Regions from separate parts of the Homo sapiens genome. Here region 1 is linked to region 2. A link means that fine-mapping ties the variant in region 2 to the expression of a gene that starts in the linked region. Tissue or cell type: whole blood. Region 2 holds a variant in brackets; the other region holds the start of a gene. All regions are shown on one strand. Distances are between the middles of the regions.

Region 1 (5,390 bases), 61 kb before region 2:
AGAGGCAGGGACTGCTTCTGTTTACAGTGTGGGAGCCTTACCATAAATTTTGGACATTCTCTTTCTCCCATTCTCCACCCTTTAAAAACATAGCAAATAAAATGTACTATAAGAAGAGTAAAGTATCAATTACCTTCTGAAATTTAAGATGGTATATTTTGACTGTGTTCATTAGAGGCAGATTTAACCTAGATTGACCAAACAATTAATTTTAAAATGGACGTTTTTCCATAGAATTATCAGGGATGAAAACTAACAATTTTTCTTTCCTATTTTTGTTTTTTGGTTTTTGTTGCAAACCGAAGCCCCTTCCATCACTGCAGCATAAAGAATGTAAGGGAACAGGAAATTGAAACTTTCAGTAAGAGCAAGATGTATTTAAGATGAAGCAATAGTAATTTTGCTAATCTTTAACCAAAATTCTCTCTCTAACACTGTGAGAGTGGAGATTTCTCCTTAGTATGAATTTAAGTGCACGATGATTATGCTACTCTGATTTTGATAGTATAGCATGGATTTATTAAGTCACAGCTGCAAAATAGTCTTAAGCCATGATTGTATGTAATCACATCCCATCAAAACAAAATTTTCTGGTTGTGTAAATTACTTCGTATTCCATAGATAAAATGGTGATCAAAATAGTTACCTACTTTGAGTCCATTTTTGTAGAAAGCAAGCCCAGGAAGATTACATACCATGCTTAATTTGAATACCTCCAAAATCTAGGTTTTCAGAGCAGCATTAATCTTCTAAGCCTCACGAATATCACAGAATTTTGAATTTTGATCTCTTAAAATTGCTATGCAATAATTTAACCTGATGGAGATACACTGTAGTTATTAAAAGACAGAAAATGCAAAGTTTAGGGAAGACTTCTGGCTAAGAGAGCCGAGTTCAGATCCTTAAGTGGCAGTTCACTTATTAGCTATGTGACTTTGGGACAGTTACTAATTCTTTATGGGATATGGTTTCCTCAATATGTAAACTATATATAACAGTGCAGCTGCTTTTGTAAAGATTTTAATAATGGGGCATATAGCAGACATTTTAAATGTTAGCTCCTACTTCTACTCTTTCCCCATGTTTTAGGCCAATCTAGAATTTATTTTTATTTTTAATTCTTATTTTTTTGAGACAAGGTCTGGCTCTATGGCACAGCTGGAGTACTCATTGCAACCTCACCCTCCCAGGTTGTAAGCGACCCTCCCACCTCAGCCTCCCAAGTATCTGGAACTACAGGCGTGCACCACCATGCCAGGCTAAGTTTTGCATTTTTGGTAGAGACAGGGTTTTGTCGTGTTGCCCAGGCTGGTCTCAAACTCCTGGACTCAAGGCACCCACCTTGGCCTCCCAAAGTACTGGGATTACAGGCCTGCACCTCTGCGCCCGGCTGGCCAGTCTAGAGTTTTCTCGATTGTGAGGAAACAGGTAACAGAATGTACCTCTGTCCAAAGTAAGATACATATTTTATATCTGTCTCTCAACCCAGTAAACACAGCATATATAATTGAAACAAAAGTTTCACAAAATAGTATTTATCATATTATGTGCCATGTACTATGTATTATTACTGTCTGTTTCCTATTAAAACATAAGCACCATAAGGGTAGGGGTATTTGCCAGTCTTTGTTCACTTGTGTACCCCCAGAACTTAGAACAATGTTTGGCACCTAGGACACAAGAATTTTTTGTGTCTGTGTTAAGTGAAAGAATGAATGACTAAATTGTACCTACCATGACACAATGGTGTTAAGCTCTTCGAAGTGTTTTTCTTATTTATTCCACAGTTAGACATGTATTATTATTATTATTATTATTATTAAGAGACAGAGTTTCACTCTTTCACCCAGACTGGATTGAAGTGGCACAATCTCGGTTCACTGTACCCTCCACCTTCCGAGTTCAAATGATTCTCCTGCCTCAGCCTCCCAAGTAGCTGGGATTACAGGCCTGCACCACCACACCTGGCTAATTTTTGTATTTTTAGTAAAGACAGTGTTTCACCATGTTGGCCAGGCTAATCTTGAACTCCTGACCTCAGGTAATCCACCCGCCTCAGCCTCCCAAAGTGCTAGGATTACAGGCGTGAGCCACCGCGCCTGGCCCGGTAGAAATTATTTACATGATTGTCATCACTGTATATCTTACATATGCAATATACAGCAGAGAGACAATTTCTGGTCCTTCAGTTTCGGAGAAGGAAAAGCAAAGCAGTGGTTATGCTGTGATGTTCATCCTGGTGGTGATGGGGGTGGGGTGGGGTGGATTTCTTTTTCTAAGGAGGACTGAGGCAGGAAAATAGGGTCTGGAGGCAGGAAACATAAGGCCTATTCACACTTCAGCTGTAACAGGAAATATCCTCTCCATAGGGCGTAGGCCATAAATGACTTTGTAACTTTACTTCATCTTCTCCCTTTACATAGGGCATACCCAAAGTAACCAATGGAATCCTCTAGGGGGTATTTAAACTCCCCAAAATTCTGTAACCGGGCCTTTGAGCCCCTATGCTCGCCCGTTCCCACACTGTGGAGTGTACTTTCATTTTCAATAAACCCCTTCATTCCTTCCTTGCTTTGTTTGTGCGTTTTCTTCAATTCTTTCTTCAAGATGCCAAGAACCTGGACACCTTCTACCAGTAACAGGATGACAGGCAAGAGTCTTATCAAGATGCTCATGAACCAAAGTATACCTCTGACGTCTTGATTCTTGGAGTCCAAGCCTAGACTGCTTTGGTAAGCAGCAAAGGAAGAAAACGCAAGATAGTTTCCTGAACAATCTCCTGATGCAACTGTTTACAGGTTTCATGTCAGCACCCAAGGGGAGCTTATGGCCAGAGACTCCCACAGTCTCTGTGTGTTCCCAGTGCTTGGGCTCAAGGGAGGCGCGCTGCGGGCTGAAGGCTCAGGTCAGAACCGCAGGGGCTTGGGCGGAGGCGGACTCCGGTCGAAGGCTGTGGGGTGAGAACTCTCGCCCCCTCTACTCGGCCGCCGCCGGGTGGCACGCCCACGCCGCGCCTTCCGGTTGGTCCTTGAGGCGACGGGTGAGGCACAGCTGAGCGCCAAAGCCACAGGCTGGGGCGCTAACGCCCCCGCTCAGCGCTCTGCGCTCCAGACAGCTGCGAGCTGGAGTAGGAAGGTTCAGGCGGTGGCGGAGAGTGCGCTGGAGGCTGGAGGGCCAGGAGGCGGGAAGCTTCCCGCACGGGGGCGCTGTCACCTGCCTGTGGGAGGAGCCAGAGAGGGACCTGGCTCTGCTGCTCTGAAGCACCGGAGTCGGGAGAACCCATCCAGACATGAAGAGCGCCAAAGGTATTGAGAACTTGGCTTTTGTCCCCTCCAGCCCAGACATCCTGCGCCGCTTGTCTGCGTCGCCCTCCCAAATCGAAGTCTCTGCCTTGTCCTCTGACCCCCAAAGAGAGAATTCTCAGCCACAGGAGCTTCAGAAGCCCCAGGAGCCCCAGAAGTCACCAGAGCCATCTCTGCCTTCAGCCCCTCCCAATGTCTCCGAAGAGAAGCTCCGGTCACTGTCGCTGTCCGAGTTTGAGGAGGGGTCTTACGGCTGGAGGAACTTCCATCCTCAATGTCTCCAGCGCTGCAACACACCTGGAGGCTTTCTGCTTCACTACTGCCTCTTGGCCGTCACGCAAGGTAAAGTCCAGCGCCCGCTTGAGGCTCGGGCCAGTGGAGAGCGAGGTGGGCACGGCGAGCCAGCCGGGGGAGAGGGCAGGTGCGCGGGGTCCGTGGGACGGTGGACGCGCCCTGCAAGGTGGCCCCGGGTTTGGAACTTGCTTGCGCTCTCACCAAGGTCAACCTACCGGCCCCCAGCCAGCCTTCCAAAGTTCAGCTTCTCCTTTATCACTACAGTTCAAACTTGCAATACAAGCCTTTTTCTCTTTTGTGTTTTACCTCAGTTTAGCGGATTCAAGACTTACAGGGAAGATTACAAGAACCTTCCTTTGGGAAAGGTATACCCTGGGGAGTTTATTTTACATTATAAAGACAAAAATTTACCTAGGCACTCTTTAAAGGTATTTTACTTTTACATTTGTTTCATTGCCTCAGGGGAAGGAGTAATACGTTTGCAGGTGGGAGTGGGATGCCTTACAAGGAAGAAAGCTATGAAAAATCTATCGTATAAATTAGATACAGACATTCATGTTTTGTGAGTGTATTTAGTTTGAGAGTATGTGGTCACCAGAGGAGCCCAGTGAGTAAATTAGCAAAGGCTCCCGACGTTGTTGAGCCTTAATCTTCATTGTGTTACATTAGTTATCCAGCATCTGTTTTGTTCTAGGATCTCTTTTAGGTTCTCTTGGGAGTTACAGATTCAGTTCAGATTTATACCCTCAGGGGCTTGCAATCTAAGCTCAGTTTGGAGGAGTGATATCCTGGAGGGAGAACAGCTCCCTTGAAAGAAGGCACAGGGAAGGTTAAAGCTGCTTCTGGTGTGTTCAATACAGAGGTTGAAGGAAAATAGGAAGTTAACCTGAGTTGACTTTGAGGAAGGGTGGAGAAGAGGTGGAGAGGAGTCAAGAAGGACATGCCGAAGCTTAGCTGAATTGGAATGTAGATATTTTTTGGTCACTTGAGTCATAGTCCGAGAATATTTTCTGTATAATCAGTCAAGGATTAATTGGAAGAAATACAACCTTAGAAATATAGATTTTAGAGGGTTGGAAACAGCTCATTTTTTAAGTTAATAGAAAACTAAGTCAAAGCCTAAGTATACTTTTTGTTCTTATTCTTCCTCTTCAAGGAACCCAGGGCCCCTTGCTTTGCGCATTAGATGCTAAGTAACCATTTATTGATTGCAAGTCCGCTGCAGCTCTTCTACTGAAGGTAGATTTGTGTTGAAGAATTATTTCCCTGTCCACTTTTCTTGTCCCTACCAAAGTTCCCCTCCATTAATGTCTTGATCATAGTTTTACAAAATTGGTAATTGTGAAGCATCTCAGTGTCAAAGGAATGCGAAGATAAAAAAGTTGGACACAAGTAAAAAATGTCTTATCTTGTGTATTATCTTAAAATTCCTCTGAAATTTCTATATTATTCCAAAATATAACATTTTATATTTAATATAAAATATTGCCTAAAATTGTTATCAAATGTAATTGTCACTCCTAGAAAATTTGTCAGGTTTAGTCTGGAGCAGCATCTACCCAGAGGTCCCCAATTTAAGAAGCTTAATCTGAGATAATAGTGACCCAATAGGCTGGGCATGGTGGCTCACGCCTGTAATCCCAGCACTTTGGGAGGCCGAGGCGGGCGGATCAGTTGAGGTCAGAACTTGGATACCAGCCTGGCCAACATGGTGAAACCCGTCTCTACTAAAAATACAAAAAATTATGGCCGGGCGCCGTGGCTCACGCCTGTAATTGCAGCACTTTGGGAGGC
Region 2 (5,390 bases):
TTTGTCTCCAAGGCACGTTGTAAGGAACATTTTTATAGTTTAGAAGGTTAGCTGTGATGTTTAATTCTTTTTGCCTTTTGCAGTTTGTAATGTCTTGGTTAAGCAATGAATGAAATTTAAGGCAAGATTAAGATTAAGTAAAACAATGTATCTAGTTTACACTAGTAAAATAAAAGTTGAAATTTAAAAATTTAAAATTTGAATAATAACCTAGGAAACTAAAATAGCTTAGAGAAATCCTGAATGTATGTATACATATGTATCTAATATAATGTGTGATTTTCATTGTGATTATTTTGACACAGGTTGATCAAGATAGGCTATTATTACTCTTACATGCATGTAAATCCAGAGTATGCTTTCTGAGTTGATAGAGATAGAGTAATAGAATATTTGCTGAAGAAATAATCTATAAATTCTTATAGCACTTGGGGAGTAAGTATTGACAAGTATAGGCAAAATTAATCATCCCATTACTTTACCTGTTGTTAAAAACCATTTTTTATTCAATTTTTAAAATTATATATTTTTACCACAATCATGGCTACATACAATGTTTTTATGTTTAAAATTTATTTAATTCATTTTGTTTGTACTTTTTGGTCAAAGATATAGATAGAACAAATCATTCATTTTCCTAGTCAATGATGAATGGGAATCCCCCCACAAAATATATAAAACCTTAAAATTTTCAGAATGAAACAAATAAAAAAAGTTGTAAGTTGTACCTATGTAACTAATCATTCTATAGTCTAGTAATGCCTAGATGAATGAGCATTCCTGTTTTTCAAATACATGTTTTTAAACAAAATATTAATAATCAACAAAAAGAAACCAGCTACTGCAAGAACTATACTGTGAGACCACGTTGAATTTATTAGGCTGGCAATTATTAAATGCTTATACTGTGGTTGGAACTAGTTTCTCTTCATATAACTGAACTTAAAATCAGATTTACTTGGAAATAAATCAAAGTTTGTGAAGTGAATCTTAATGTTTATTTTTAGCTGATAAGAAGAGTAGATTTGGTTAAGTATTGAGTGTGATATCCTCCCACAGAGGCTTTAAGAACTCCAAAACCTTTTTAATTTTTAGAATTATTTTCTGTCCTGGAAGGGAATGTTCTTCAATTTATTCAGGTTCAAGAATGTTACAAACTACTTTCCCTCATTATTGACTTTTGGTTGCTTGCAATTTTTTATAGATATCATATTGTGTTAACGAATTTATTTATTTATTTTTGAGACGGGGTTTCTGTCTGTCACCCAGGCTGGAGTGCAGTGGTGTGATCTCAGCTCACTGCAACCTCCACCTCTAGGGGTGAAGCGATCCTCTCACGTCAGCATCCCAAGTAGCTGGGACTGCAGGCTGTACCATCCATCATACCTGAATATATTTTGCACTTTTTTTTTTTGGTAGAGACAGGGTTTCCTATGGTGCCCAGCCTGGTCTCGAACTCTTGGACTCAAGACATCCACCTCTCTCAGCTTCCCAAAGTACTGGGATTATGGGCTTGTGTTAACAAATCTAGATGGTGGCCCAATTCCTATTTAGTTCTATACAACACTTATTTTACAAGAATGCACAAGCATAACCAAGAATAAGTTAATTATTGTGCTCTATTACAGCTTAGAAAGAAAATAAGTACTAGTGACTTGAATTGTATACAAATGTTTTTTCTTTCCCCTTAATGTTTCAAAAATTTTAAACATAGAACTATAATGGTTATGTAATTATTCTCTTTAAAAATGTTCTATTCATGAAGATTTTTCTCAGTGATAATTTTTATCATAATTAAAAACAAAAGCACATGATTAATTTTTTTTTTCACTTAGGTGTTACTTGTAAAGTTATCACCATGTTCTTCAATGGATTTGCAATCTTTTTGTATAAACCACCTCCATCAGCCACAGATGTGTCATTTCATAAAGAGAATGCAGTTGTGACTAATGTTTTAGCAGAACAGGATCTCAACAAAATAGTAAAAGAAGGGTGAAATGGGAAAAGAGAAGACTGTTTTACACCTGGAAAATTTACCTCGATTTTTAAGAACACACATTGCCATGGCAGGATTATCTATCCAATATGGACAATCATATTTACAAAATTGATGTTTTTATAATCAAATGTATTTTTTTACTTATGTAGTTTTTGTTTTATGCAAGAAACAGACCTGTGCCTTCAAAGCCCACGTAAAGCCTCAAAACACAGCACACACACACACGAGCACACACACACACACACACACGAACACACACACACACACACACACGCACACATACACACTTATTTCCTATTCCCATTGTCTAGGTATGAAATCCTCAAGCAATAACAAGAAAAAAGGCCCACAATTAGAAAAATTTACATTTAAAAAAAATGTTGTTTCTATCCCCATTACAACTTGTTTAATTTTAATTTTCATTGTCAATATTTTGAGCTTAGAACATTTATGGTATAAAAATTTAAACTAATCAAAGTTGTGTGATGATTTCCGGGAATTATTATTGAAAGCCTATGAATTTAAAACCAGGTTTACCATGTAATTTGTTTTTAAATTTATGTATACTAGCCTGGCCTTTCTCCAAGCAAATTATTGAACTATTAGAATATGTTAGTTATCATCCTTGTGTCTTAGTATATAGTGAATACAGAAACATCAGCATTGTATACACATATTTTCACTTTAACTCAAGAATTCCAGGAGGTAATTTGTTGATATTACAATTTTTAACACATTTATGATTCTGTGATAATATTATTCAATTGCATATATTTCAGAGGAAAGTACCAGTCAGTAAAGAAAAATGCCAACTAAACATGAAACTATTGATCAATACTTATATACCTTTAATTTTTCCTATTTGAAAAGCCAACCACTTAACACATTACTCATAGCACCTAAGACAGTGCCTTGCATAGTGTAGTCATCTATTATTATTGTTTAATTAGAATATTAAACCCTACCCTTTAACTCAGCAGTCCCCAACCTTTTTTGCATCAGGGACCATTTTTGTGGAAGACAATTTTTCCATGGGGGAAGAAGGTATGGTTTTGAGATGAAACTGCTCCACCTCAGACCATCAGGCATTAGTTAGATTCTC[A/G]TAAGGAGAGTGCAACCTAGATCCCTTGCATGTGCAGTTCCCAATGGAGTGTGCACTCCTATGAGAATCTAATGCCACTACTGATCTAACAAGAGGTGGAGCTCAGGCAGTAATGCTCACTCACCTGCCTCTCAGCTCACCAACTGTGTGGCCCGATTCCTAACAGGCCACACACAGCCCAGGGCTGGGGACCCCTGCTTTAACTGATGCATTGATTTGATAAAGTATTTTACAAGCCTGATAATGTTATAACCCTGTTTATTCAGGTCAGATTTATGCCAACTTTGCTGAGAATATGGAGGGTATAGATGAGTGAACATCAACAAACATAACTTCTACCATGGTTAAGAATTTTACTTAGGAAAAGTATTGAAGTTCAAATCCAGATAGTATTACATTTGAAATTGTTATAAGGGTTATTAATTTAATAAAATTCATCATCAGGTTTCCCCTATAAGCTTTCTCCTAGGTTAATTTTCCACAAGCATTGTTTTATATACACTGTAATCAGGATAACACAAGCTTAGTGTTAGATCTTGTAGGAAACCAAGATTAGAAACATTAGAAATTTGCAGAATTTAAGAAATTATGTTTTGTGGTAATCTATGGCCAACGATGTTAGAACCTAGCGCAATTGTAAAGTGAAATTCAAGGAGAAGGAATGAGGAGTTAGGGAAGCAGCATACTTGAATATTAGAGAAGGAGAGGAGCTGTGGGTCAGGAATCAGAGAGACCTGCTAAAACCAGACAGATATAAACACCAAAGACGGAAGCCAAATAGGTAGCCAAAAATCCAGATATTTGAGAAGCAGGAAATTTATAGCAACCAAAGAAATAGGGCAAGAGAGGCAGGTGAACACACATGATACCTCAATTGACAATCTTCCTCCCACCAAGCCAGACACGTTGTAAATGCTGCTTCCTATTGGAGCCCAGAAAAAAGGAAAAGGAAAGTTTAGGCTTTCTTTGTCCTTTGTGTGGAAGCAGGGAATTGGATTGAAGACTTTCATAGTTGTAACATAAAGGCAAATCCTGAGGAACTCACTGATGGAGATGTGAAATGGCAGTAAGGAAGAAAACAGAATAACTGAACAAATATATTAGTCTAGGGCCACTTAATTTAGAGGAAGAAAAAAAATCAACCCATCCATAGAAATAGTTTGATAAACAGGTCACTAAATCATTGGCGTTTATAAAGATTCTTAGCTATCAAGGGCTGCATTGTATTTTATATACTCAGTTTTATAAGGTGATACTTTTTAAATAAGCGCTTTAATGAAAATGGTTAGACTGAAAATAATTTTGGTCCTTAAAAGGAGTCAGGAGCTTTTATATATAAGGTACATATTTTAAAAGAATACCTCCTTTATAACAGGGTTTTACAGACACTACCATAATTTATAATCATTATTTTTTACTTTTGGGTTCACCTAGATCATATGAGTTGATGTGATACTTCTAGAACAAAATTATTCATAGTGCGTTTTTTGTAATTTATGATTGTTAAGTAAGCTTGACTTATAAATTGACATTGTAATTGTGTACATAATTGGATATATGTGTTAAAATTTAACATTTAGATTTACTTAATTGTAGAAAATACAAATGTAAAACTTACACATGGAAAGAACTGTATGCAGTTGACTTTACTATGTAAATTGGAGGGAAACAAAGTTTTAGATCCATTTTCTTTCAAAATTTTCTTTATTGTAAAGTATGCAAAATATATATTCATACCATTTATTAAATCAGAATGTTTATACAAAATTGTCGTGTTTGAGCTTATTAAATGACACAGGTTTGAAACTTGCCTTATCTCTGTGAACATAAGCATATTTTATGGATGGGAAAGGGAAATTAGTATGCTTTTGAACTTGGTGAATGTATTAATAATTTAATCCAGTGATTTCTTGTATCTCAACAGATGTTTTTAATTCAATACAAACCACATGTATTATGAAATATATATTAGGGAAATTCTCTTACACAAGTTTCTACATATGACAGATTAATATATAAGATTTATATAAGTAGGATACATTTTACAGATGGTTTATTTGTAAACTATCTGATAAAAAAGTGTGGGATGTGTTTAATTTATCTCAGTTTATTGTAATAGTAAAATATTTTAAGGAAATAATATTAGATGTTAATTTGAAATGTAATGTTCTTTTCCCCCAGGCTCCTTCAGCTTTTTTTTCAGTAAAGTCCAATAAACACTAACTTTTACAGCACATATGAGTAATCAAAAATAGATGAAAGATAATCCACTTTGAAAAACTCAATGGG

The links. PIP is the estimated chance that this variant, and not a neighbour inherited with it, causes the effect.
Region 1: SLCO4C1 starts here. The variant in region 2 is fine-mapped to the expression of SLCO4C1 in whole blood (INTERVAL, PIP above 0.99).

The regions. Positions count from the first base shown.
Region 1 is chr5:102,294,162-102,299,551 of GRCh38, reverse strand. SLCO4C1 (solute carrier organic anion transporter family member 4C1) reads left to right here and starts at 3,268. Exons shown (of 13, transcript NM_180991.5): 1 at 3,268-3,644. The coding sequence starts at 3,290. RefSeq lists an enhancer at 3,303-3,502.
Region 2 is chr5:102,233,464-102,238,853 of GRCh38, reverse strand. SLCO4C1 (solute carrier organic anion transporter family member 4C1) reads left to right here. Exons shown (of 13, transcript NM_180991.5): 13 at 1,836-4,868. The coding sequence ends at 1,996. Among named protein-coding and RNA genes, the nearest start is that of SLCO4C1, 60 kb to the left of the region's middle. The variant A/G (reference allele first, on the strand shown) is at 3,102.